Regions from separate parts of the Homo sapiens genome. Here all the other regions are reported to be linked to region 4. Evidence: microRNA targets listed by miRTarBase, many of them from high-throughput screens and not tested one by one. Region 4 holds a microRNA gene; each other region holds the end of a gene's coding sequence.
The links. The annotated mature microRNA hsa-miR-142-3p reads UGUAGUGUUUCCUACUUUAUGGA and lies in region 4 at 1,787-1,809, shown strand. An mRNA with a match to its seed (bases 2 to 7 or 8) in the 3' UTR can be bound and repressed. Matches are read on the target gene's strand: a 7mer-m8 pairs with bases 2 to 8, a 7mer-A1 pairs with bases 2 to 7 and ends in A, and an 8mer does both.

Region 1: the mRNA of CUL5 is a reported target of hsa-miR-142-3p. Seed matches in the 3' UTR shown: 8mer at 2,378-2,385 and 7mer-A1 at 1,195-1,201.
Region 2: the mRNA of LAMC1 is a reported target of hsa-miR-142-3p. The part of its 3' UTR that is shown has no 7-base or 8-base seed match.
Region 3: miRTarBase lists PRPF38B as a target of hsa-miR-142-3p. Seed matches in the 3' UTR shown: 7mer-A1 at 2,038-2,044.
Region 5: the mRNA of ZNF676 is a reported target of hsa-miR-142-3p. Seed matches in the 3' UTR shown: 8mer at 509-516.

The regions. Positions count from the first base shown.
Region 1 is chr11:108,103,702-108,108,807 of GRCh38, reverse strand. CUL5 (cullin 5) reads right to left here. Exons shown (of 19, transcript NM_003478.6): 19 at 1,047-4,618. The coding sequence ends at 4,424. Among named protein-coding and RNA genes, the nearest start is that of ACAT1, 15 kb to the left of the region's middle.
Region 2 is chr1:183,141,796-183,146,897 of GRCh38, forward strand. It overlaps LAMC1 (laminin subunit gamma 1), which reads left to right. Exons shown (of 28, transcript NM_002293.4): 28 at 739-3,797. The coding sequence ends at 995. Among named protein-coding and RNA genes, the nearest start is that of LAMC1-AS1, 3.1 kb to the left of the region's middle.
Region 3 is chr1:108,699,039-108,704,144 of GRCh38, reverse strand. It overlaps PRPF38B (pre-mRNA processing factor 38B), which reads right to left. Exons shown (of 6, transcript NM_018061.4): 6 at 1,217-4,983. The coding sequence ends at 4,125. Among named protein-coding and RNA genes, the nearest start is that of PRPF38B, 9.3 kb to the right of the region's middle. RefSeq lists an enhancer at 543-632.
Region 4 is chr17:58,327,948-58,333,053 of GRCh38, reverse strand. It overlaps MIR142 (microRNA 142), which reads left to right and starts at 1,736; the gene lies at 1,736-1,822. It overlaps TSPOAP1 (TSPO associated protein 1), which reads left to right and starts at 4,259. Exons shown (of 32, transcript NM_004758.4): 1 at 4,259-5,106. It overlaps TSPOAP1-AS1 (TSPOAP1, SUPT4H1 and RNF43 antisense RNA 1), which reads right to left. Exons shown (of 5, transcript NR_038410.1): 2 at 4,933-5,004. MIR142HG (MIR142 host genes) reads left to right here and starts at 534. Exons shown (of 1, transcript NR_186557.1): 1 at 534-2,166. RefSeq lists enhancers at 67-136, 637-706, 1,507-1,646, 3,437-3,516, 3,617-3,786 and 1 more and silencers at 217-526, 5,097-5,106.
Region 5 is chr19:22,175,193-22,180,298 of GRCh38, reverse strand. It overlaps ZNF676 (zinc finger protein 676), which reads left to right. Exons shown (of 3, transcript NM_001001411.3): 3 at 1-1,210. The coding sequence ends at 349. Among named protein-coding and RNA genes, the nearest start is that of ZNF676, 19 kb to the left of the region's middle.

The DNA.
Region 1 (5,106 bases), not on the chromosome of region 4:
AAATAAGTATTTCAGGCCAGACGCGATGGCTCACACCTGTAATCCCAGCACTTTGGGAGGCCGAGGCAGCTAGATCACGAGGTCAGGAGATTGAGACCATCCTGGCTAACATGGTGAAACCCTGTCTCCACTAAAACTGCAAAAAATTAGCCAGGTGTGGTGGCAGGCGCCTGTAGTCCCAGCTACTCGGGAGGCTGACGCAGGAGAATGGCATGAACCCAGGAGATGGAGCTTACAGCGAGCCGAGATCGCGCCACTGCACTCCAGCCTGGGTGACAAAGTGAGACTCTGTCTCAAAAAATAAAAATAAAAACAAAAATAAGTATTTCACAAATTTTCAAATATATCCAAAATGTGAAATGATTATGTTTTACATTTTTTACTTTTTTTTTTTTTTTTTTTTTTTTTTTGAGACAGTCTCATTCTGTCGCCCAGGCTGGAGTGCAGTGGCACAATCTTGGTTCACTGCAACCTCCGCCTCCCGGGTTCAAGCGATTCTCCTGCCTTAGCCTTCCGAGTAGCTGGGACTACAGGCGCGCGCTACTACACCCGGCTAATTTTTATATTTTTAGTAGAGACAGGGTTTCACCATGTTTGCCAGGCTGGTCTTGAACTCCTGTCCTCAGGTGATCCACCCACCTTGGCCTCCCAAAGTGCTGGGATTACAGGCGTGAGCCACTGAGCCCGGCCCATTTTTTACTTTTATCTGCTATAAAATTTGAATTTTGTTATGACATAGCCTATCTTAGTTGATGAATATATTAACCACTTTCAGGTTGGAATTTTTTTTTTTTTATTACCTCTTCCAGGCATATAGCCACATGCTATCATCAGTGGAAAAGCTACATTCCTGACTGCTCTCATTTTGAATTAGAATTTGAAGTCTAATATAAATAAGTGGGTTACTTTTCATATTTCTGATTCCTAAGGCTGGCTGAGATTAATTTACCTTCAAATTTAAAAATATACCTACTATAAAAATTTTAATTAAACTCTTTGTAACTATTTTATAGTAGAACATCAACATTTTCTGGATAGGTAAAAGCTTTTATATTACATTTTTATTTTGCAAGAAAATAAATTATACAACTTAAAAAATAAAATCCAAAAATTAAGCAGTTCATCAAAATATTTCAGCCTACTGCATACAGAAACTGCTACCACTTAAAATTGTACAGCATTATCATCTCAGTATGTAGTGGCACACATTCAAAATCGTATAGACCATATGAGGATAGATTACAACTTAGAAACTAAAATAAATTTGTTCAACACTCCAGACAACATATAGTGTAGATGACAGGAAAGCTCTCATGTAATGTTTATTTCACAAACATGACCTTGGAAGAATTCATAAGACAGCATCCCAGTCACTTACATGAGAACAGAAAAACCAGCTTGAGTTTAAGATAGCAAATCTTTCTGTAAAACTAGCAAATCTTTCACCCAGACTGAAGTTTTAAAATTTGCCCTTTGAGCAGTGCTAGAGACATCTTACTGCAAATAATGCAAAATACTTTTTAACTACTCAGGTCATATTTTCTATTAAATTTAATAAAAAGTAAAAGAAAGAAAGCTAACATTTCATTTTTGGAAGGTTTAACATTTATGCACAAAATAAGAGCAAGAGACTTAAATAAAAAAGTTGACAGAACTCAGGGACCCCTCCAATAAATGTAAAAATTGGAAGACTTCAGAATTTATTTCAAGATCCTCATTTAATCATTGGAATAGTAATATTCTAATATTTATCTCATTGTGACCATCAAAATTTTTCTATATTTTTACTTCTTAAACTCTGTCTTATGTCTACTTACTCCGGCAACGAGATGGCAACACAAGTTAACATTTTCCAGATGGGATGTCTCTGTCTTTAAACTAGAAGATGGGTATTCAGAGGTTAAGATAGCCTCTGAAGTGTCTTATTGCCATACCACTAATTTTTAAAAATTAAATTTTTTTTTTTTTTTTGGAGGGGGAGGCTGGATTTTCTTTTCACTTAACTGCAGGTTATATCCCTGCTCGGCACCAATTTTAAGTGTACGCTGGAGAGAAGAGACCTGAATAAAGGATGCCAACTGTGATTCCAGACCTTTACAAACTGCTGGTAAGATTTTTTTTTTCATTTTTTTTTAAATTAGCAAATCTGTTGTTAAATTACTTAAAGAAAATTTAACAATGGCATAGGCACCTTGTCAACTAAATGATTTTCATAAACACCAAAAAGTAGTTAAAACTTTTGTATACATAACCAAAAAAAAAAAAAAAAGAAAACTGTACATTTACAGTATTTGCTGCTGTTCATTCCCCAAAATACAATTAGGACATAATTGGCTATTAAAAATTTATAAAATTTAATAAAAAACTTTGCTATGAATGTAGTGTTACCCACTTTTGCATTAAATTCACCTTCATAAATCAAAACATCATGACTCTCATTCTTAAATTAAATGACCCAAAATTAGAAGTTCCAAAAAAGTTCTGAGAACAATTATGGTTTAAAACAACAAACCTAAATTTTTAAAATGGACGGCAATTTTTCCTGTTTCCTCCTTTGGCATTCTTGTATTGGGACAAGCAAATACGCCAATGCTGAATTATCTGTTAAACATAAGGGCCACAATTACTACAAAATTATTTCTTCTAAATTCCAAATATACCCATTATGAACAGTCACCTAATTAGAGAAAACTGTACGTATTAATTTTAGTTTAATTCTTCACAATATGCTCGGTCTAATAATTGACATTTGCTACCTTAAAGTGTAAAATTTTAAACAAAATTCCAATTTCCTATAAGTTTCAGAACAGGCATTTGGCTATACTCAGCAAAACTCTAAATGTTTTAAAGTTGCTTTCCTTCCATTCAGCAGGCAGTTCACAAAGCCTCTTCGGATGGGGACAGATCCTACGAAATGCTCTTGAAAGCACTCCACTGTAACATAATACTGTATGCCTTTCTGTACTCCATTTCCTACTATCTTCAAAAACCATACTTTAAAAATATTACTTAACATCAAATAAGATATAAAATAATTTGCAAGAAAATTTGAAACGTGCACCACAATGAATAAAAATCCACGTTGAGCCATTCTTTCCTCAAGGGGAATCAATTTTCTCTTTCAAGTTGTTCACGTCCTCAAGTCCTAAAATTTCCACTACTCTGGGTATTCAGTTGCCAGCAACTAGTTAAGTTGCTACTTTGGATAGACTGAAAGGAACATGGTAAATGTTGCCTTCTGACGATTTAAAAAATGTTTATTTTTAAAATATATAAATATATATGTACATATATTTGGCAAGTTTACTGCTCGTATTAAGAGTGCAACAATTTTGCTTCTGTTTTTCAGGTCTTATGTTGTGGTTTTTCTCTTACCCCTAGGTGACTGATTCAAACCTGAGGCTACAAATCCCTAATCATGAGACCTTAAAATACCAAAATACTTCTATGCTACAGATTAAGAGATCAGTTACATAACTATATCAGAGCAGGAGATTTCTGTGTTGTTTTTAATAAATTCAGATATGGCATAATAAATATTAGGTATATAAACATTAAGTGTGTTAGTAAACACACAATATGTTTAGTAAACACACTTAATATGTTTGTTTTGCTATTTTGGCTCTGCAATCATAATGACCTACCTATCTCCATAAATTTTTTAAACTATTGAAGCAACAATTAATATAAGCTTCATTTTTCAAAACAAGCTTTCCAGCCATATTTAAAAAAAAAAAAACTCCTCATCATTTAACAACAACTAAAATAGCAGTCTCCTGCTTAAAGAAAACCAACATTTGAAAGTTGAAAATATTTAATACCATTTTTAGGTCACCATTAAAATCCAGTTATTATACTGAGCAATGTTTGAACAATTTGATACTATTAAATACTTAACTTCTCACCTACATCTGCCGTTTCCCAATGTTGCATTGACCAGCTCACTCTTTTCATCAAAAGAAACCAAGAGTGCTATTTCTAGTTTTAATTGCATTTTTTAAAAACAAAAGATAACAGCATTTTTCAGTGCATGAATATCTGAAGATCCTTCCTTGTGCAAGTACATTTTTTAAGAGAGGAAAAAAGAGAAAAAAGCAACAAGAACCCCACCCTCACCCTTCCCAACTGTATTTCTCCTGGTGGGTACAAATCAAATTCACTTTTAAAAGTTGATAATGGGCTCTTCATGAATGCAAGTTTCTCCACAAAACAGCATGCTGTCAAAGAGTGTGCAACATGAAGGGAATGCCATCATGCTAACTAATGTGATTGGCAAAATATAGTTGTTTTTGTAAGGTAAGGCAGAGATTTTAATATTTATGTAATCAAAGTCCAAATAAACCTTTCTCCAGCACAAACTTTACAACTTTCTGCCCAAGCACTCCAAAATTTGGGTTCTAAATATTGTCCATGATATTCAAAATTATGCCATATATATGAAAGTGTTGATATCAGATTCATCTCTTCTGATGTATTTGTGCTCTATTAGCCACTCTATTTGCTCTTTTATCATTTTCTTTTGTGGCAAGAACATGTTTTTCAAAATTTCTACTAATTCAGTCTGCAGCTGAGCATTACTAATTTTCTTTCTCATTTTCATTATTTGTATGATAGCTTCCTAAAAGAAAAAATAAAAATAAAAGCGCATTAATATACGAAATTATTTTAAGTACAACAAACTGAAAAATGACTTTTTATGCATATTCATCCTCTATCCAACATCTACCCAAATGAATAATAATCACTAGGGGATTAATGTTGAGACTAGTATCTTTTACTTAACAAATAAAAACATCTTTTGTTTTCTCATGCCCCATAAAAGAGAATCTGCTTATTGGGGTGGGGGGATAGGGGAGGGATAAGCATTAGGAGAAACACCTCATGTAGATGACGGGTTGATGGGTGCAGCAAATGACCATGACACGTGTATACCCATGTAACAAACCTGCACATTCTGCATATGTATCCCAGAACTTAAAGTATGTATTTAAAAAAAATCTGACTATAGAGATTTTGAAAAATAAGGAAAAGCAAAATTACCTCTGCTTCTCTGCTGAAAGAAAACTACACCTAATGTTTTAATATTATTTCCTTCAATTCCTTTTT
Region 2 (5,102 bases), not on the chromosome of region 4:
TGTTGCCTATAGGCTGTGCAAACTTGGGCAAATTATTTAACATCTGAGAATCACTGATGTAAAATGGTCTTGTGAGACTTTAATCAAGTCAAGTATGCATGAAATGCTGTCTATTGTGTCTGCTTTTGTTTGTTATGGAAACATCTCATTTCTTTCAAAAGAACCTCTTTTTCTTGCTAAGCTTAAAGTGAAGACTTGCTGAAATTATTTCAGCATTTTACTCCTGGCCATTTTCCATAGGAAGGCTCCTAATAGTGTCTAACTCCTGAAAGCAGAAAGTGACCTTCAAAACTGACCCATCTTCCCTGGAATCTCTCTAAGAGCTGAGGGATTAGGGTTCTTAGAGATTTGTGTATCTTTGATGGCACTAAAATGACATAGAGTTTACATGTATACACCTGGAAAAGGTATTAAATGTTATCAGATGGCCCTCAAAGGTCTAGAACATGGTAGCTGTGCATTGAGGAAACATTCTGCAAAAACCATTGTCTCAGAAAGAAACATCCAGCTCTATATTAATTGTATGCTCAGACCCATCCCTGCTGGGTTAGGTCAGCATTTGTACTTGGTTTGCATATTTTATACCATTGTGTGACATCAACAATCTGCAAGTCACATTTGCCGGGCTGCCTGTGCAGAATGGCAGCTGCTGGGCCTAGAGTCTAGTGCAGGTACTTGTGAAGGGATCATTCTTACTGAATATGTCTGTTCTCTTCTATGTACTTTCTGACCCTCCAGGGCAGCTGGATACAGTGGACCTGAATAAGCTAAACGAGATTGAAGGCACCCTAAACAAAGCCAAAGATGAAATGAAGGTCAGCGATCTTGATAGGAAAGTGTCTGACCTGGAGAATGAAGCCAAGAAGCAGGAGGCTGCCATCATGGACTATAACCGAGATATCGAGGAGATCATGAAGGACATTCGCAATCTGGAGGACATCAGGAAGACCTTACCATCTGGCTGCTTCAACACCCCGTCCATTGAAAAGCCCTAGTGTCTTTAGGGCTGGAAGGCAGCATCCCTCTGACAGGGGGGCAGTTGTGAGGCCACAGAGTGCCTTGACACAAAGATTACATTTTTCAGACCCCCACTCCTCTGCTGCTGTCCATGACTGTCCTTTTGAACCAGGAAAAGTCACAGAGTTTAAAGAGAAGCAAATTAAACATCCTGAATCGGGAACAAAGGGTTTTATCTAATAAAGTGTCTCTTCCATTCACGTTGCTACCTTACCCACACTTTCCCTTCTGATTTGCGTGAGGACGTGGCATCCTACGTTACTGTACAGTGGCATAAGCACATCGTGTGAGCCCATGTATGCTGGGGTAGAGCAAGTAGCCCTCCCCTGTCTCATCGATACCAGCAGAACCTCCTCAGTCTCAGTACTCTTGTTTCTATGAAGGAAAAGTTTGGCTACTAACAGTAGCATTGTGATGGCCAGTATATCCAGTCCATGGATAAAGAAAATGCATCTGCATCTCCTACCCCTCTTCCTTCTAAGCAAAAGGAAATAAACATCCTGTGCCAAAGGTATTGGTCATTTAGAATGTCGGTAGCCATCCATCAGTGCTTTTAGTTATTATGAGTGTAGGACACTGAGCCATCCGTGGGTCAGGATGCAATTATTTATAAAAGTCTCCAGGTGAACATGGCTGAAGATTTTTCTAGTATATTAATAATTGACTAGGAAGATGAACTTTTTTTCAGATCTTTGGGCAGCTGATAATTTAAATCTGGATGGGCAGCTTGCACTCACCAATAGACCAAAAGACATCTTTTGATATTCTTATAAATGGAACTTACACAGAAGAAATAGGGATATGATAACCACTAAAATTTTGTTTTCAAAATCAAACTAATTCTTACAGCTTTTTTATTAGTTAGTCTTGGAACTAGTGTTAAGTATCTGGCAGAGAACAGTTAATCCCTAAGGTCTTGACAAAACAGAAGAAAAACAAGCCTCCTCGTCCTAGTCTTTTCTAGCAAAGGGATAAAACTTAGATGGCAGCTTGTACTGTCAGAATCCCGTGTATCCATTTGTTCTTCTGTTGGAGAGATGAGACATTTGACCCTTAGCTCCAGTTTTCTTCTGATGTTTCCATCTTCCAGAATCCCTCAAAAAACATTGTTTGCCAAATCCTGGTGGCAAATACTTGCACTCAGTATTTCACACAGCTGCCAACGCTATCGAGTTCCTGCACTTTGTGATTTAAATCCACTCTAAACCTTCCCTCTAAGTGTAGAGGGAAGACCCTTACGTGGAGTTTCCTAGTGGGCTTCTCAACTTTTGATCCTCAGCTCTGTGGTTTTAAGACCACAGTGTGACAGTTCCCTGCCACACACCCCCTTCCTCCTACCAACCCACCTTTGAGATTCATATATAGCCTTTAACACTATGCAACTTTGTACTTTGCGTAGCAGGGGCGGGGTGGGGGGAAAGAAACTATTATCTGACACACTGGTGCTATTAATTATTTCAAATTTATATTTTTGTGTGAATGTTTTGTGTTTTGTTTATCATGATTATAGAATAAGGAATTTATGTAAATATACTTAGTCCTATTTCTAGAATGACACTCTGTTCACTTTGCTCAATTTTTCCTCTTCACTGGCACAATGTATCTGAATACCTCCTTCCCTCCCTTCTAGAATTCTTTGGATTGTACTCCAAAGAATTGTGCCTTGTGTTTGCAGCATCTCCATTCTCTAAAATTAATATAATTGCTTTCCTCCACACCCAGCCACTGTAAAGAGGTAACTTGGGTCCTCTTCCATTGCAGTCCTGATGATCCTAACCTGCAGCACGGTGGTTTTACAATGTTCCAGAGCAGGAACGCCAGGTTGACAAGCTATGGTAGGATTAGGAAAGTTTGCTGAAGAGGATCTTTGACGCCACAGTGGGACTAGCCAGGAATGAGGGAGAAATGCCCTTTCTGGCAATTGTTGGAGCTGGATAGGTAAGTTTTATAAGGGAGTACATTTTGACTGAGCACTTAGGGCATCAGGAACAGTGCTACTTACTGATGGGTAGACTGGGAGAGGTGGTGTAACTTAGTTCTTGATGATCCCACTTCCTGTTTCCATCTGCTTGGGATATACCAGAGTTTACCACAAGTGTTTTGACGATATACTCCTGAGCTTTCACTCTGCTGCTTCTCCCAGGCCTCTTCTACTATGGCAGGAGATGTGGCGTGCTGTTGCAAAGTTTTCACGTCATTGTTTCCTGGCTAGTTCATTTCATTAAGTGGCTACATCCTAACATATGCATTTGGTCAAGGTTGCAGAAGAGGACTGAAGATTGACTGCCAAGCTAGTTTGGGTGAAGTTCACTCCAGCAAGTCTCAGGCCACAATGGGGTGGTTTGGTTTGGTTTCCTTTTAACTTTCTTTTTGTTATTTGCTTTTCTCCTCCACCTGTGTGGTATATTTTTTAAGCAGAATTTTATTTTTTAAAATAAAAGGTTCTTTACAAGATGATACCTTAATTACACTCCCGCAACACAGCCATTATTTTATTGTCTAGCTCCAGTTATCTGTATTTTATGTAATGTAATTGACAGGATGGCTGCTGCAGAATGCTGGTTGACACAGGGATTATTATACTGCTATTTTTCCCTGAATTTTTTTCCTTTGAATTCCAACTGTGGACCTTTTATATGTGCCTTCACTTTAGCTGTTTGCCTTAATCTCTACAGCCTTGCTCTCCGGGGTGGTTAATAAAATGCAACACTTGGCATTTTTATGTTTTAAGAAAAACAGTATTTTATTTATAATAAAATCTGAATATTTGTAACCCTTTATATTTGGTGTGGCCTGAGTGTGGTACTGGGGACATAAGATGTTTTAAAAGGTATAATGAATGAAAAGCCATACATAATACCTTCTTTGGGTGACTTATTTTCTTGAGAACAATTCAGTATACATTTTATATATATATATATATGTATGTATATATGTATATATGCCTCTCTCAAGTTGGGATACTGCAGTGTAGTCTGGAAGTTGGTGAACTTTTTCTATAAAGAGCTAGATAGTAAATGTTTTAGGCTTTGCAGGCCATGCGCCTATGGGCTGTAGTTTACTGGAACCCCAGTGTAGCCTCAATACTCAGTGACAACTGACAGTCAGGCACAGTGGCTCATGCCTGTAATCCCAACACTTTAGGAGGCCGAGGTGGGCTGATCCCTTAAGGTTAGGAGCTCGAGACCAGCCTGACCAACATGGTAAAACCCAGTCTCTACTAAAAATACAAAAATAACTGAGCATGGTGGTGCGTACCTGTAATCCTAGCTACTCAGGAGGCTGAGGCAGGAGAATAGCTTGAACCCGAGAGGTGGAGTGCAGTGAGCTGAGATCATGCCACTGCACTCCAGCTGAGGCAACAAAGCAAGACTCCGTCTCAAAAAAAAAAAAAAAAACTAAGATTTGTTGGACATCCTAAATTAGCAGATGTATGTTAAAAGTTGTCTGTCTCTCAATACACACGTGTCTAGCTTAAGGTAGTTTCTTTAGATGATGAGAAGCTCTTAAGCCTATGATTTAATAAAAAGTAAGTAATGTGCTGCACTAACAGGCTAGAATCGGGTAATTTTACTAGAATTTACCTCACTCTTTCTGGAGGGAGGACCCATCTGAAGTGACCTGAGACCAGGTGAGGCCTTTGGGAGCTACAGAGACAGCAGGAAGGCTTTGGGCCTGCAAAGGCCTTCCCTTTACTCTTTGATGCCCTGTTTATTGCCCTGGGCCTCCGTGGATTTCATGCCACCTTCCCAATCTTAGGAATTGTTACAACTATGATACCTGTAAAGAAGAACCTGAACTACTCTCATTAGACTTCCTCGGAGAAAGCTTTAGAGGGCACTAATTACTAGTACTATTACAGCTTTCTTACATGCCCTGTTTTTAACCTTTATTGAGGACCATTTCCCCTCATTTGTAGGACTAATTCAGATGCAGCTATGTCTCCTTTATCATTACTGTCAGAGTGATAAGTGAGATTTTAAAATTTTGCTCCTATTCCATCAGTCATTTTCAGGACAGCAGTTTCTCAAAAGTTGCTACTAGCATAATCTGATTCAGAATATCCCCAGAGGTTTACTCCATAA
Region 3 (5,106 bases), not on the chromosome of region 4:
GCTGATTTCAGCATTTACGTAATAGAATCAAACTAGGAACAGAATCAACGCCCATCAGTTGGCCAATATCACCTGAGAATTGGTCCACTAGTCAGTGTTTGAGGTTGCACGTTGGCATCAGTTGAAAGATGTACAAACTGCCAGTGGTGGGACCTCATCTCTACTAACCAAAAACTTTATAATAAAGCACAACTTTTAGGGAAGAGAATTAAGTGAATACCATTGTCATTTTTTTCTTCCTCTGCAGCTCTAAGTAAAATAACAAAACAGATACTGCCTTTGCAACTAACTGCCTAAGTACTCTTAGGAACTTAAGTTTCTGGTTTATTAATTCCCAAACACTGTACATCTAAGCATAGTTTTAAAAAAATCAGTTAATGAACAGAACCAAAGTCCTAGGGCAGTTTGTGAGTTCCTTTGAAGTTACACACAAATTTTAAGGTACTTTTTGAGACACAGCCTCCTTCTCTCGCCCAGGCTGGAGTGCAGTGGTGAGATCTCGGCTAACCGCAACTTCCGCCTCCCAGGTTCTAAGCGACTCTGCTGCCTCAGCATCCGGAGTAGCTGGGATTACAGGCGTGCACCACCACACCCGGCGTATTTTGTATTTTGTATTTTGATTTTTTGAGACGGAGTCTTGCTCTGTCAACCAGGCTGGAGTGCAGTGGCGTGATCTCAGCTCACTGCAACCTCTGCCTCCTGGTTTCAAGGGATTCTCCTACCTCAGCCTCCCAAGTAGCTGAGACTACAGGCATACACCACCACACCCGGCTAATTTTTGTATTTTTATTAGAAACGGGGTTTCACTGTGTTAGCCAGGCTGGTCTCGAACTCCTGACCTTGTGATCTGCCCGCCTTGGCCTCCCAAAGTGCTGGGATTACAGGCATGAGCCACCACACCCGGCCCGTATTTTCCACTTTTTAGTAGACATGGGGTTTCAGCATGTTGGCCAGGCTGGTCTCAAACTCCTGACCTCAGGTGACCTACTGGCCTCGGACTCCCAAAGTGCTGGGATTACAGATGTGAGCCACTGCACCTAGTGGGGTACTTTTTTTTAGACAGGATGGTAGCTTTCATCAGATTACTAAAAAGTGGGCCCAGAACTCAAAACAACCATTGCCTTAGAGGAACTGAGGAACTAAATCAGAGTTAGGAGATAAAAACAGGGCAATATTAAAATGAACACTTTATATTAAAAGTTTAAGATTGATGATATACTCGCCCATGTATAGAATTTAATTGCAAATTGAACATTAAAAACAGGCAAAAGATTTTAATACATGGAAAGGTGAAATCATTCCAGTAAGTACAAAAACTGGATGGAGGATGCTTATTAAGCTGTATTAAAAATTTTTTTAAATTATACTTTAAGTTCAGATACATGTGCAGAACGTGCCGGTTTGTTACCTAGATATACATGTACCTTGGTGGTGAGCTGCACCCATCAACCTGTCATCTACATTAGGTATTTCTCCTAATATTATCCCTCCCCTAGTCCCCCACCCCACAACAGGCCCCGGCGTGTGATGTTCGTGTCCAAATGTTCTCATGTTTCAAGAAATGTGAGATGTCTTTCATAGCCACTTGTTTTCCCAGTTTCTTAGGAAGCCACTCTCCAAATAAATCATGCATATATATAGCAATAACTAGCACAATTTACATGTTCTCACACCTACCATAATTTTCCTCAAAAGCAAACATATTTAAAAATCGTAAGAAGGGACTGGAGTGGTGGCTCACACCTGTAATCACAGCGCTTTGGGAGGCTGAGGTGGGTGGATCACTTGAGGCCAGGAGTTCAAGACCAGCCTGGGCAACATGGCGAAATCCCAACCCTACCAAAAATACAAATTAGCCGGGTGTGCTAGCATGCACCTGTGGTCCCAGCTACTTAGGAGGCCAAGTTCGGAGGATCACTTGAGCCAGGGAAGTGGAGGCTGCAGTGAGCAGAGATTGCACCACTGCACTCCAGTCTGGGTGACAGAGCCAGGCCCGTCTCAAAACAAAAACAAACTAAAAACCCACAAGAAATCAAATGTAGTGACGATCATCGAACTGTCAATCGAGGTGATAGTTCTTTCACCTCCATGTGAAGTAATTTAAATTCTTTCCACATTTTACTTAAAATAGTCAGATAAAACATTTCACATGGAACCATATCCAAAGTAGTAGCTCCATAATTTAGGTATGCTAAAAGTAGATTTTCAACACAAGACAAATTTAGTGGCTTTCATATTATACAATAGGTTTTTCTAACTTCTGGGTGTCTATAGCACTAATTCACTTGATGCTCAATTTAAAAGACAAAGGAATTTTCTTAAAAAAGAAAAAAGCATATCATTTTTAGAAGAATTCATTTAATGAGATTTTTCTAAAATGGAGTGGTACATATGTTAAGCCCACATATGGAGGACTCTTGCAAGTGTACTCGTTTGCTCCATTTAACATTTTTGCAAGGTGGCTTCTGAGTGCGCATTAGTTGGCCAGTATAACCAGTGAGATAAAACAAACCTCAATGTGCGTGCCAGGTTCACTACACTGTCAGAATACTGAGTTTTAGCCCTAGCACTGACATCATTACTTTGGGCCTCTATTTTCTTTTCTAAAAAGAATTGGGTGAATTATCTTAAAGAATTTCAAGTCCAAATTTTAAAAAATGCTAACATATTGTCCAAGTAAAAGGTATCCCAATAAACGTCTTTGACATGGAACAAAGTAATCAAATGACACATGTAACAACCACTGACAAAGGGAACTGCCATTATCAAGTATTCTAATAAAGATTATTGATTACCACATGCCCAATCCCAGTCTATGCATTTCTCCAAAATTCACTTGTCATCTGGGCACTAAGACATCCCTGTACACAAAGTGTGACTCTACTGACGTTTCATCAATTTCCACAATATAAATATGCTAAAAAAATTTAACAAATGGGGGAAAAGCCAAGACCCAGGATAAAGGATTTAATCCAGTATTTATTCCACACTCATGATGGTTCTGTAATCAGAATACAAGTTGTAAGAACAATCTATCAAATAATTTGCTGATAGTCTTAAATAATGCAGCACAGCATTACTTTTAATACTCCTCTGTTCTAGATTAAGTTTAAAAACTCAAACAGCAATCTCCATTATCAATAAAAAAAGTTCTGAATTTTAAAAAAAGGACACTATATCAAGCTGTTTCATAATTTAAGGATTTTCCATTTATAAAAATGCTTTGGAAGCTTGAGGCTTGAATCTGTTTCTCTACTCATCTGCCCCACCCTCTCCCCATTACATGTTAGTATAGGGTTCTGCAAGAATGCTAGGCTTTAGACATTAATTTTTTTCTTTAATATAGTACTTTAAAATCTGAGAAAGAATTCAAGAAAAAAAGATTACATGTCATGTATTTTTTCAAATAAAAAAGGAAAACTAAGTGAATAAATTTTAGGCATACTAAGTGTCCCTTTGAGGTAGAATGCTAAAAGGACTTTTGATGAAATCACAGCCTAAAAACCTCTGCATCAGAAACTAACTTCTCATAAATTCTCTCTAAAGGTAACTGTGGAGAATATTAAGTGTAACATATTAACAAGAGCCTTCCAAGATAATATACAGTAGACAAGAATGTTAATCCTACAATGCTGCCTTCTTGTACATTGGCAGCACATACTTCTCCTATAATAGACATCCAAGATCCATTCTCAAAGTCTTTAGCATTCTATTACGAAAAGCACAGCCATGCTAACTTCAGTACACAAACCATAATCCCACACCTACAAAACAAAAATAGATTAGTGGCAGTTTATTGCCTTATACAAATTTAACCAACATGGCAACCATGCCAAAGGAATTAAAACATTTTCAGGACATATGTACAGACTGTACATTTCAAAAACAAACAATAAAAATGCAAGAACAATCTGTGCATCATGTATCAAACTTAACAATTGGGTGAAAACACCAATGCAATAAATGGAATTACAAAGGCACTTCCCTACACGAAAGAGGAAATGAAAATGCAGCCTACAGGGAGAGCTTGAGGAGTGCGAACTACTGCACAATCTCAACGTGGGGGAAAAAAGCAGATTTAATCATTTATAGGATTCAATGTGATCCACTTTTACAAAATATTTTCACACAGTCTCATCTTTGTTTTTATGCTGTTTTTCTTGGCTCTCTTGTTCTATACTTTGGCTCCTTCGACGATCATGTTTGTCTGACTGGTCCTTACTATCACTGTGATCTCGTTTGTGGGAACGTTCTTTGCTTCTACTACGCTTTCTAGATTTTTCTTTGCTGGGACTATGTTCCCGTTTTTTTGATTTTTCAACACTGTCAGTTCTTCCTTGACTGCCACTTCGACTTCGTTTATTTGATTTTTCTTTACTTTCATTTTTATGTTTACTTGATTTCTCTTTGCTTCTACTTCTACTTCGTTTCCCTGCATTTCTACTTCGACTCCTACTTCTGTGTTTCCTTTCTCTGCTTCTGCTTCTACTGTGTTTTTTCTCTTTCTTGGAATCTCTTTTGTCATCTCTGTGCCGCCTATCATCTTTGTCTTCTTTATGTTTCTTCTCTTCTACCTCTCCCCTACTTCTCTGTTCCTTGGACCTTTCTCTTGATCGCTCTCTCTCTTTTTCTCGTTCATTTCCTCTTTCCTTATCATAGTCACGATCTCGTCTTCTACCTCTCTCATTTTCTTTCTCTCTTTCTCGATCCCTGTCCCTTCTATCCCCTTTCCTATCACGACTTCGACTGCGACTTCTATGCCTTTCCCTACTTCTGCTGCGCCTGCGTTCTAACCCCCGGTCAATACTTCGGGATCTTCGCCGTTCTTTCTCCCTTTCTTTGGCTTCACGCTCTAGTCGCTGGCGTTCTTTCTCTCTTTCTAATTCTCTGTCAAAACTAGAAGACCCATGGCCCTCCCGATGATGACTTCTACTTCTTGACCTTCTTGGGGACCTCCGTGGACTCAGAGATCTCCTTGGAGACCTAAGGAAGGCGGAGGGAGAAAGAAAATTTCAATGAATAAAACATATGCAATTCTTTTCACAGTAAAACTTTCAACAGCATTATTTATTCATGTCCTCAAGCTTAAGGCCATGTCAAGAATCA
Region 4 (5,106 bases):
GACAACAGTCTCCATGGACGCCCTTCATGCATCAGCACCTCCATGGCCCTCGGGAGCACACGCAGAGGAGCCAGGGCCTGGCCTGAGTGTTGGGAAGGGAAGGGAGTTTTCTGGGCTGAGGTCAGCAGCGGTGGGGCTCAGAGAGAAGGTCCTTTTCTTGTGCTGGAATTCTGGACTCCCCGTTTTGGGCACTCACCGAGGGCCCTGTCGAGGAGCCCTGGTCTTCTGGGGTCACCCTCAATGCCCTGAGTCAGTCCCAGGCTCTTGAGCCATCCCTTGGAGCTGGTGCCACGGGGGGAAGGGCAGCTGGGGCCGGAAGCCACCTGCCCAGGGCATGAGAGAGGGTCCCCAGCCCTCCCGCGGGCCCACCCCCTTCTGTTTCCTGTCAGTCTGTCCTCCCCAGGGAGGGAGGGAGGGAGGGCGCTCATCCCCTGCGGGCGGGGGCGGGGCGCGCTCTGAGACCGTTGGGCGCCCTGAGATCTGGCCCACGTGGCCTCGGGGTTATAAGCCCTGCCCTCCCTGAAGGGAACCCCACTTCGGAGCCTGGAGCACAGGGCGAGCTCTCCTCCGCCCTGCAGCCTCAGGTAAGGATCCGGACCTTCACTGCTGCCCCAACTGGGGCTCCTCAGCTCGGGGCCTCTAGGGGCTTGGGCTGCTGGTCTGGGTGGAGGCGCGTTGGGGGTGTCGAGGAGCTTGGGTGCAAGCCCCATGCGGGAAGCTCAGGGCAAAGCGCCTTGAAACCCTCTCTAGTGAAGGAAGGTAAAATGGCTCCGGGACCCCAGGCGGGGAAAGAGGTGTCCAAGGAGGAGGGCTGGAGAGTAAGGCGGGGATGGCAGAGGGTACGCAGAGGCTGAGAAGTGGGACCAGTGTCTCAAGGGGCGCCAGCCTCTTCCTCCGCCCAACATGGCCACCATTTTTGTTGGGATAGCCTTGGGCTCCTGCCAGGGGAACAGCAGGGCAGTGAGGGAGTCAGGACTTTGGGCTGGTGGGGAGGCCGAGAATCAAGGCTCTGGGGAGTCAGGACTTTGGGGCTGGTGGAGTGGCTGGGGACTGAGGCCCTGGGGGGTCAGGACCTTGGGCTGCTATGGAGGCTGGGACTGAGGCTCTGGGGGAGTCAGGACCTTGAGCTGGTGGGGAGGCTGGGAATTGAGGCCCTGGTGTGTTCAAGACCTTGGGCTGGTGGGGAGGCCAGGGCCTGAGGCCCTGGGGGGTCAGGACCCTGGGCTGTTGGGGAGGCTGGGGACTTAGGCCCTGGGGGGTCAGGATCTTGGGCTGGTGGGGAGGCTGAAGGGTGGGGACTGAGGCTCTGGGCAGTCAGGACCTCACGGTTGGGGTGGACTGGAGACCAAGACCTTGGCAGGGGAGCTGTGGCTGCCTCATTTGGACGCTGGAGGGTGGCTAGCGTGGCTGGAAGCGGCCAGCCAGGGGTTCACAGAACTGAAGGTGAGGCCTCCAGAGGCCCTAGTCTCTACCTGAGTGTCTCTGAAACTGGGGGGATGGGGTGGAGCCTTTAGGGGGAAGGGAAGAGGGAACTGAAGAGGAAGTGGGGGAGGGAGGTAGAGGAGGCAAGTCTGGCGCCATGCTGAGTCACCGCCCACAAGGCCCAGGGCGGGCCCTCGGGGGGCCCTGGCAGGGTTGGGGGGATCTTAGGAAGCCACAAGGAGGGCTGGGGGGCTCTTGGAGCAGGAGTCAGGAGGCCTGGGCAGCCTGAAGAGTACACGCCGACGGACAGACAGACAGTGCAGTCACCCATAAAGTAGAAAGCACTACTAACAGCACTGGAGGGTGTAGTGTTTCCTACTTTATGGATGAGTGTACTGTGGGCTTCGGAGATCACGCCACTGCTGCCGCCCGCTGCCCGCCACCATCTTCCTCGGCGCTCGGGGACCTCGTGTGACAGGTGAGCACCTTACGGCCCCTCCCTACCCTGCCCAGATGCCTGAAAGGCCTCCATGGCTTTCCTGCCCTTCCTGGTTCCGGACAGCTGGGGAAAGGCCACAGCAGCTCCTCTGCTGCCCTGCAGTCTTTGGGGGCGGGGAGGGCTGGACATGTGGAACCCTGATGCAGCCGCAGCGTCAAGGACGAGGAAGGGGTGGGAAGGGATGGTACGTGGAGGGGAATGGGTGGTGGGACCAGGGACCCAATGCTAATAAAGACTGGACTGTGCTTCTCTTTTGTCTGAGACTCTGTTGCTGGGGTGGGGAGCTGAATGCGGGCGGCAGGCACATGGACAGTATGGGCGCACAGAAGGGCTGGGAGGGAGAACCTCTGTCGCTCCTCCAGAAGATACGGGTTTGGCCCTGCCTATGAGATCAGAAGAGGGCTCTGGGCCTGGCCAGGCCACAGCCGGAGGAGAGAAGGGCCTGGGCCATCTGCAGAAAGGGGCAGGGATGTAAGGCATCCTCTCACCTTCTACCCTAGCTCTGGCCCTATCCTGCCCCCCTACATACCCAAACTGAAAGCTGCCTACATCCAGTTTTAATCTAAGAAAGTCTAGGGGGTCCTAGGTCATATAAAAATTGGGCAAAATCCACTGTGGCACATACACAGCATCTTAGACAAGGGCACAGACACTCATATACAAAGCACACACTGAGATGCAAATGCATTTACACACAGAGGCCCCATTCAGTGTGCCAGTAACACACACACAGACACATGTGACATGACTGGCATGACACACACAGGGATTACACACACCCAGGGCACATACATATTCAGTAGTACACACATGCAATGATAGAAACATAGGGCGTGTCTTACACATAGAAGAGCACACACATACAGTGACATTTGCATAATAAACACGGTGGCTCCATACACATACATAGATAGAGACATGTTCATATATCATGATAAATATAGAATACATAGATACATGGTGATATATATATATAAATCAAACCATGTCATTATGCATATTTACATGACGATATGAGCATGTCATATATTGTGTAATCAATTACTACATTGTGCCATATAGTAGCATCCATATCTATATATATCATGATGTGTTGTAATTTATAAACTCATGCAATGATAGCCTCCCATGCACATAACAGCACACACATAGACACAGTGGCAAACAAACATAGATGCAATGACACAGAAACATACATACAGATACACCCAATGTGTTTTTGTTACGTTTTATTATGTGACTCATAGACACATAATAGCACACACATATATACACACAATGGCCCCTTCACATATACAGAAATAGATAATGTCTATTCTATAGATGCATACTATACACACGCATGCGCATAATGGCATGCATATATACTCTGACCTAAACAGCAACACATCATGCAGTGGCGTGCGTGTTGACCTACACACTGCTTTAGGGAAGTGAAGATGTCCACTCCTCCCCATGCACCCCCTACCTCCAGTTCCATTGGCTCTTGCCTGGGTGGAGCCCACAGTCAGGGGCTCTAGGGTTCAGTATCACCGCTGCTATTCTGTGGGGGTGCCACACGAGGGCCCCCGACCTTGGCTGAAACTGGCTTGCCTAATGAGTCCCGGGTTCAGAGTGGAGAGGGGCTGCCTCTCGGGGCTTCTCCCAACACCCCTGGCTCTGGGGACTCTGTCTAGACCCCTGCCACTGCATATAGACTGACTCCTGGCTGAGGGGATTCTCACGTCCTTGTCCCCCAAATTATTTAGCAACAAGATCTAAGGCTAGACAGAAGATGAACTTCCAGGCAATTCGGGACAAAGCCAACCCAACAGGCCATGTGGGCTTCCCTGGTGGCCTGGGACAGCCAGGTTGCCCCCCAAGTGCAATCTGCCAGGAGGAAGCAGAAGGAATTCTCCGTCTATTTCTACCTGTCTCTTTGCTTGTCTTCCCGGTTTCTTTCTCTTGGTTTCTGTCTCTCTCTTTGTTTCATCTCAAGTCCCATCTTTTCTAGTTCTGCCCTTCTCTGTGGCTGGATCTCTGTCATACCCTCCCCCGTTCTGTCTCTATCAGTCTCACCCGATGTAGGGAGGACCATCTGCACCCCACTCGCCTCTGTACTCCGGAAGGTGTGAGAATGTGTGAAGATGAGGGTGGGAGGCCACATGTGGGAGCCCTGGGCTGACATGCCGTGAGAAACCTGCTCTTCCTTCTGTCCCCGACCCTGTCAGCCGGTTCAGCCCACCAGTCCAGCGCCATCACCATGGAAACCAGCAGCCGACTTCCTATTGGTGGGTGGGAGGGGAGGAGGAGGAGGAGGAGGGGAGGGCTGGCTCTTCCCGGCTCACCCCCCCACCCAATTCTGAGGCTCAGCCCTCCTCGGAGCCCACCATCTCGAGGCTCCTGGACTGTAAGGGACCCCTGCAGTCCCCAGAGCAGAGGCCAGCAGGGGCTGAGACTATGAGGCAAGCAGCCCATCGACCCAGGCCTCCTTAGGACCAGCCCAGCCACCCAGCAAGCGAAAGAGCAGCAGCAGAGAGCAGAGCCGGAGATAAAGGACCACAGCGGACCACTGGGGATCACCCCCAGCAGCTCCTGAAGCCTCTGGCCGGGCTGAGGGGTTGCGACAGACGGCCAGACCCACAGACACTGACAGACACACAACGACACCGATGCACACAGCTGCACGACACTGACACACTCAGATACAACCAGGGACAGCATCACATACTGCCACAGCCCTGCAATACAGACACCCACACACACACACACAAACAACTGGCAACTCTGAAATGGGCAGACAGTGACACACAGCACCACCCCCCTCAACACACAGAAGTGGGGGCACCCATCTTCCCAACACATGAGACAGCATTGACCTGCACGGACAGACCTGGAGACACACACACGCACCCTCACCCAGGCGCAGCTGTCGGTGGCCTCTGCACATCCTCCCTACCCCCACAGGGACACCCTCGCTCCTCCACATACTCGCGCACACACACAGCTACCAGCAAACATAGCTCACATACCCCTGGCTCCAGCTCCAGCAGCCCTGGCGCCTTCTGCAGCCTCCTTTGTGGGTGGGGAAGAGCTCAGCCAACCTTGGATGGAGCGTCGGTGAAGCAAGAGCTCAGAGGGGAGAGGGGCTGGCCTGGCATGACCCTCGCCAGTCCCCCCACCTGGCTGGGTGATGTCCCCCGGCC
Region 5 (5,106 bases), not on the chromosome of region 4:
AGAGAAACCTTACAAATGTGAAGAATGTGGCAAAGGCTTTAGTACGTTCTCAATCCTTACTAAACATAAGATAATTCATACTGGAGAGAAACGCTACAAATGTGAAGAATGTGGCAAAGCCTTCAGCTGGTCCTCGATCCTTACTGAACATAAGATAATTCATACTGGAGAGAAACCCTACAAATGTGAAGAATGTGGCAAAGCCTTCAGCAGATCCTCAAGCCTTACTAGACACAAGAGAATTCATACTGGAGAGAAACCCTACAAATGTGAAGAATGTGGCAAAGCTTTTAAGTCATCCTCAACTGTTAGTTATCATAAGAAAATTCATACTGGAGAGAATCCCTAAAAATGTGAAGAATGTGGTAAATCCTTCAGCTGATTCTCAGTCTAGTAAACATAAGAAAATTCATACTGGAGAGAAAATCTACAAAGGTGAAGAATGTGGCAAAGCTTTTAAACAGTCCTCAATCTTTATTACACATAAGAAAATTCATGCTGGAGAGAAACACTACAAACGTGAAGAATGTGACAAAGGCTTCAACCGGTCCTCAAACCTTGTGGAACATAAGAGAATTCATACTGGAGAGAAACCCTACAAATGCGAAGAATGTGATAAAGACTTCAACTGTTCCTCACACCTTACTACTCATAAAAGAATTCATACTGGAGGAAAAGCCCTACAAATGTGAAAAACGTGGCAAAGCTTTTCATTAGTTCTCAACCCTTACTGAACATAAGGGAATTTATACAGGAGGGAAACCCTACAAATGTGAAGAATGTGGCAAGCCTTTTAGCTGTTCCTCAATCCTTACTAAACATTCATGTAATTCATACTGGAGGGAATTCCTATAATTGTGTGGAATGTGGCAAAGCCTTTAACCAGTCCTTAAGGCTTACTACATATAAGACAACTCATACTGGAGAGAAACCATGCATGTGTGAAGAATGTGGGAAAGCCTCTAACAGATCCTCAATTCTTAAGAAACATAGGCTAATTCATACATGAGAGACTCTACAAACCTGAAAGATGTGACAATGCTTTTGGCAACACCTCAGACTTTTCTGAATATAAAAGAAATCATATGAATGAGAAATCCTAGAAATGTGAAGAATGTGACAAAGCCTTTAAATGGCTGTCACACTTGATTGTAGGTAAGATAATATACTGGAGAAAACTACTAGAATAAACAATGTGGCACACATTTAACCAATACTCATGCCTTATTGCAAAGGAAAGCATTTATATACTAGCCTGGGCAACAGAGAGACTGGGAAAAAAAAATTGTGAATGCCACTAATATCTTCTCACATCTTATTCAACACCAGAGAGTTCATATTAAATAAAGTATTAAAAGTACAATTATTGTCACTAGATCTTTCAGAAAATAAAAGCCCTTAAAATACAGAAGAATATTTATTTTGAGGAAAAACATTACAAATATAAAGAGGGTTGTAGTGCCTTTACTTGTATCACAGATTTTATTGTACACATTTTGTACTACAGGAAAACCTTAGGTAGTTGTTCCAACTTTGCTAAACATCAGGGAATTTATATTGAATGACCGTGCAAATTTAATAAATTTGGAAAAACATTTTTACAAAAACTACAGAATTATAAAACACAAAAGAGTTTATACTAAAATATATTTTTGCAGATACAGTAAATATAAAAATATTTAATCCAAAATTGTTTATGTAAATATAGATAATTCACAGTAGAAATACCTATCTCTCAAACTTCAGACATTACACTAAATCAGACTGCTGAGTATAGGAAAAAATCCAAAACTAAAGTTGTTAAAAAGAAAAATTATTTGTATATGACTTTGAAAGAAGTAGACCTTTGAAGAGTTACATTTACATTTAAAGTATACTTTTATCTTAAAAATACCGATTTTTTTTTTTTTTTTTTTTTTTTGCCAGACACAGTGGCTTACACCTGTAAGGCCAATACTTTGTGATGCCAAGATGGGCAGATCACCTGAGGTCAGGAGTTCAAGACCAGCCTGGCCAACAAGGTGGAACCCCATGTCTACTAAAAATAAATACAAAAATTAGCCAAACATGGTGGTGCACACCTGTAGTCCCAGCTACTTGGGAGGCTGAGGCATGAGAATCACTTGAACCTGGGAGCCAGAGGTTTCAGTGAGCTGAGATTTTGCCACTGCACTGAAGCCCGGGTGATAATGAGATTGTCTCAAAAGAAAAAAAAAAGCTTATTTGGAAACTGAATAATGACGGAATTCAACTCTTAAATTGCTTCATGCTATTTCTTAATTTCTCTTGTATTCCCATATAAAAGCATGTGATCAATTCTTTCTGCATCAAAGATTTGGGAGACTTTTTACATGGTCATTATGACATTTCTTATGGATGACTAAGGACATTAAAATGTAAGATGCACGATGAAAATCTAAGTAGGAAGGCTATTTGTGATTAACTTATAGAATTGAGTGATGTATGAGGTAGGCATTCAGAGTTTTTTTTTTTTTTTTTTTTGAGAGGGAATCTCACTCTGTTTCCCAGGCTGGAGTGCAGTGGTATGATCTCAGCTCACTGTAAGCTCCTCCTCCCAGGTTCAAGATATTCTCCTGTCTCAGCCTCCCAAGAAGCTGAGATTACAGGTGCCCACAACCACATCCAGCTAATTTTTGTATTTTAGTAAAACAAGGTTTTGCCATGTTGGCCAGGCTGTTCTTGAACTTTTGACCTCATGTGATCTGTCTGCCTTGGCCTCCCAAAGTGCTGTGATAATAGGTGTGAGCCACTGCACCTGGCTCTAAGTGATGTACTAATGTAGTATTATGAGAGAATATTATGAGAGAATAACATATTTTATAGTTAAAATTAATTAAATTAGTATGTCATTTTATTAATTGTACTTTTATGTGATAAAATTGCATTTTTAAAGTTTTAGATTATGTGTTAATTTTTTATTTCAACATTTATAACATGTTAAATACTGTTATACATTCAATAAAGTGTTATTATGCCACTAGTTTTAACCTATTCCACCTTACTTAAGGGTATATTTAAAAGATGGTAACAATACACTATTTGGTAACATAATAGACTAACATCTCTAGTATTCTTTTTCAGTGGCTTTAAACTGCAAATAAGTTAAAGAATATGGTTCCTGCAGGTTAAATTTTTTTTACATTTAAATTTTTCTTAGTTTTTGTGTGTACATAATATGTGTATACATTTATGCCATAGATGGCATATTTTGATACAGTCATACAATATATAATAATCACATTGTGATAAATAAGGTACCTATAACCTCTGGCTTTTATGTTTTGTATTACAAACCAATTCTACAGTCTTAGTTATTCTAAATTGTACAATTAAATTGTTATTGACTACATGGTTATTTTTATGGTCATCATAAAAATTGTAAATAAGTGTAAATAAAATCAATATATTTCTGAGTCCTGAATAATTTTCAAAAATTTATTATGTATTTTTTGCACATGTGGCCTCTGCCTGAAAGCACATAATCGAGTTTTAGTTTTGACTTACATAGAGTTAAATATACACATCTATTAGTCTAAAGATATAACTTAGGTTTAAGGAGTAAGTGTGTTTGTTTGACTGTAAGTTTGTAACTATTTTCAGGAGAAAAGAGGAATATTGAAACCACAAAGCATTTAATAAGATGTCTAATTTACTAGGAAACAAAAATCCTCAAAAATGCTAAAAGCAAATGTAGGCTGGGCGCGGTGGCTCACGCCTGTAATCCCAGCACTTTGGGAGGCTGAGGCGGGCGGATCACGAGGTCAGGAGATCGAGACCCCTGACCTCTACTAAACCCCGTCTCTACTAAAAATACAAAAATTAAAAAAATAAAATAAAAGCAAATGTATACTCTCTGCTTTGTATTCAATTTATACACCTATCTTATAGCTTATCATTTAGAATATTTCCATGTAAATTTTGTTTTTACTTGCATGATACTCATGCTAGACCCATAATCTTTTTGTTTCTTATTTTTTTGTTTTATAGTTTATGAAGTATTTAATCTGAGCTGATTTGTAGTTAAAAGAATAATTTTTGTAAAATTTCATCATGCAAACAAAATTATTTTTAGATATAATTCCACAATTTGTGTATTGTTACATTTTATTTAGTTAAAACATTCCATTAGCTTCTATGGGAGAACCATATATAGGCTTACTTTAGTTATTGTTCCCTTAACTTTTTATAAGTAACAAAAGTAAATTTTATTTATTGAGTCAATTTGTTTCAGTAAGTACTAGGGAAGCTTCATAAGTCATGTGGATGCTTTTATATATAAATGTAGCAAACAAACATGACAGTGCTCAGTGTGTAACAGATGCTTTATAATTAGTCATAAATATTCCTGCTGAAGTTTGTAACTTCAAGTCAGAGATGGAAAATACAAATTGTGAAGAAATAACATTGATTCTTCATGTGAGCAGAACATCTTTTTCCAGGCTGCAAAGCTGAATCTTGCTGAATTTAAAGAGAAATGCTTCATTCACGTCTTAATTATCTAAGTTTTGTCTTTTTAAGTGCACTCAAACCATATATGCATCACAGTCCTTTTTCTGTGTTATGGCTACAGTTTTCTCACTGTTGTTTTCATGCCATGCGATTTCACATGGTATGTTGTAGGTTTTAAGGAGAACATCGGTATTTTTTAATGCACTGAAACATTGGTTTTAACTGGAAAGTTTGCTTATCAGTATAACTTTAAGATTGGTTAATTAACATAAAAGACATACACTGTCTACCGAAGAGAGGATTAAATCAACATGGTGTTTCTTTGTAAAAGAAAAATATTAGATTTTTATACATAGTGTGGCAAATACATAATTTGCTAGACCATATGTATATTATAAAGATTCAATTTTTAAGAGAATAGTAAGTAAGCAATTTTAAATTTAGTTATTTAGGATGTACTTAGAGCACAACCTACATTTCCATGCAAAATTGTCTATTTTAAAGTGAATGTTAAAGGTTGCAAAACAATAAAATAACCTGTAAATTTGGAATAATATTTATTTTCCATATTGATACTACAATTTGGAGAAATGTATCGCTCACTTTTTAAATAAAAATTTTAGTGGCTGAAGTTTA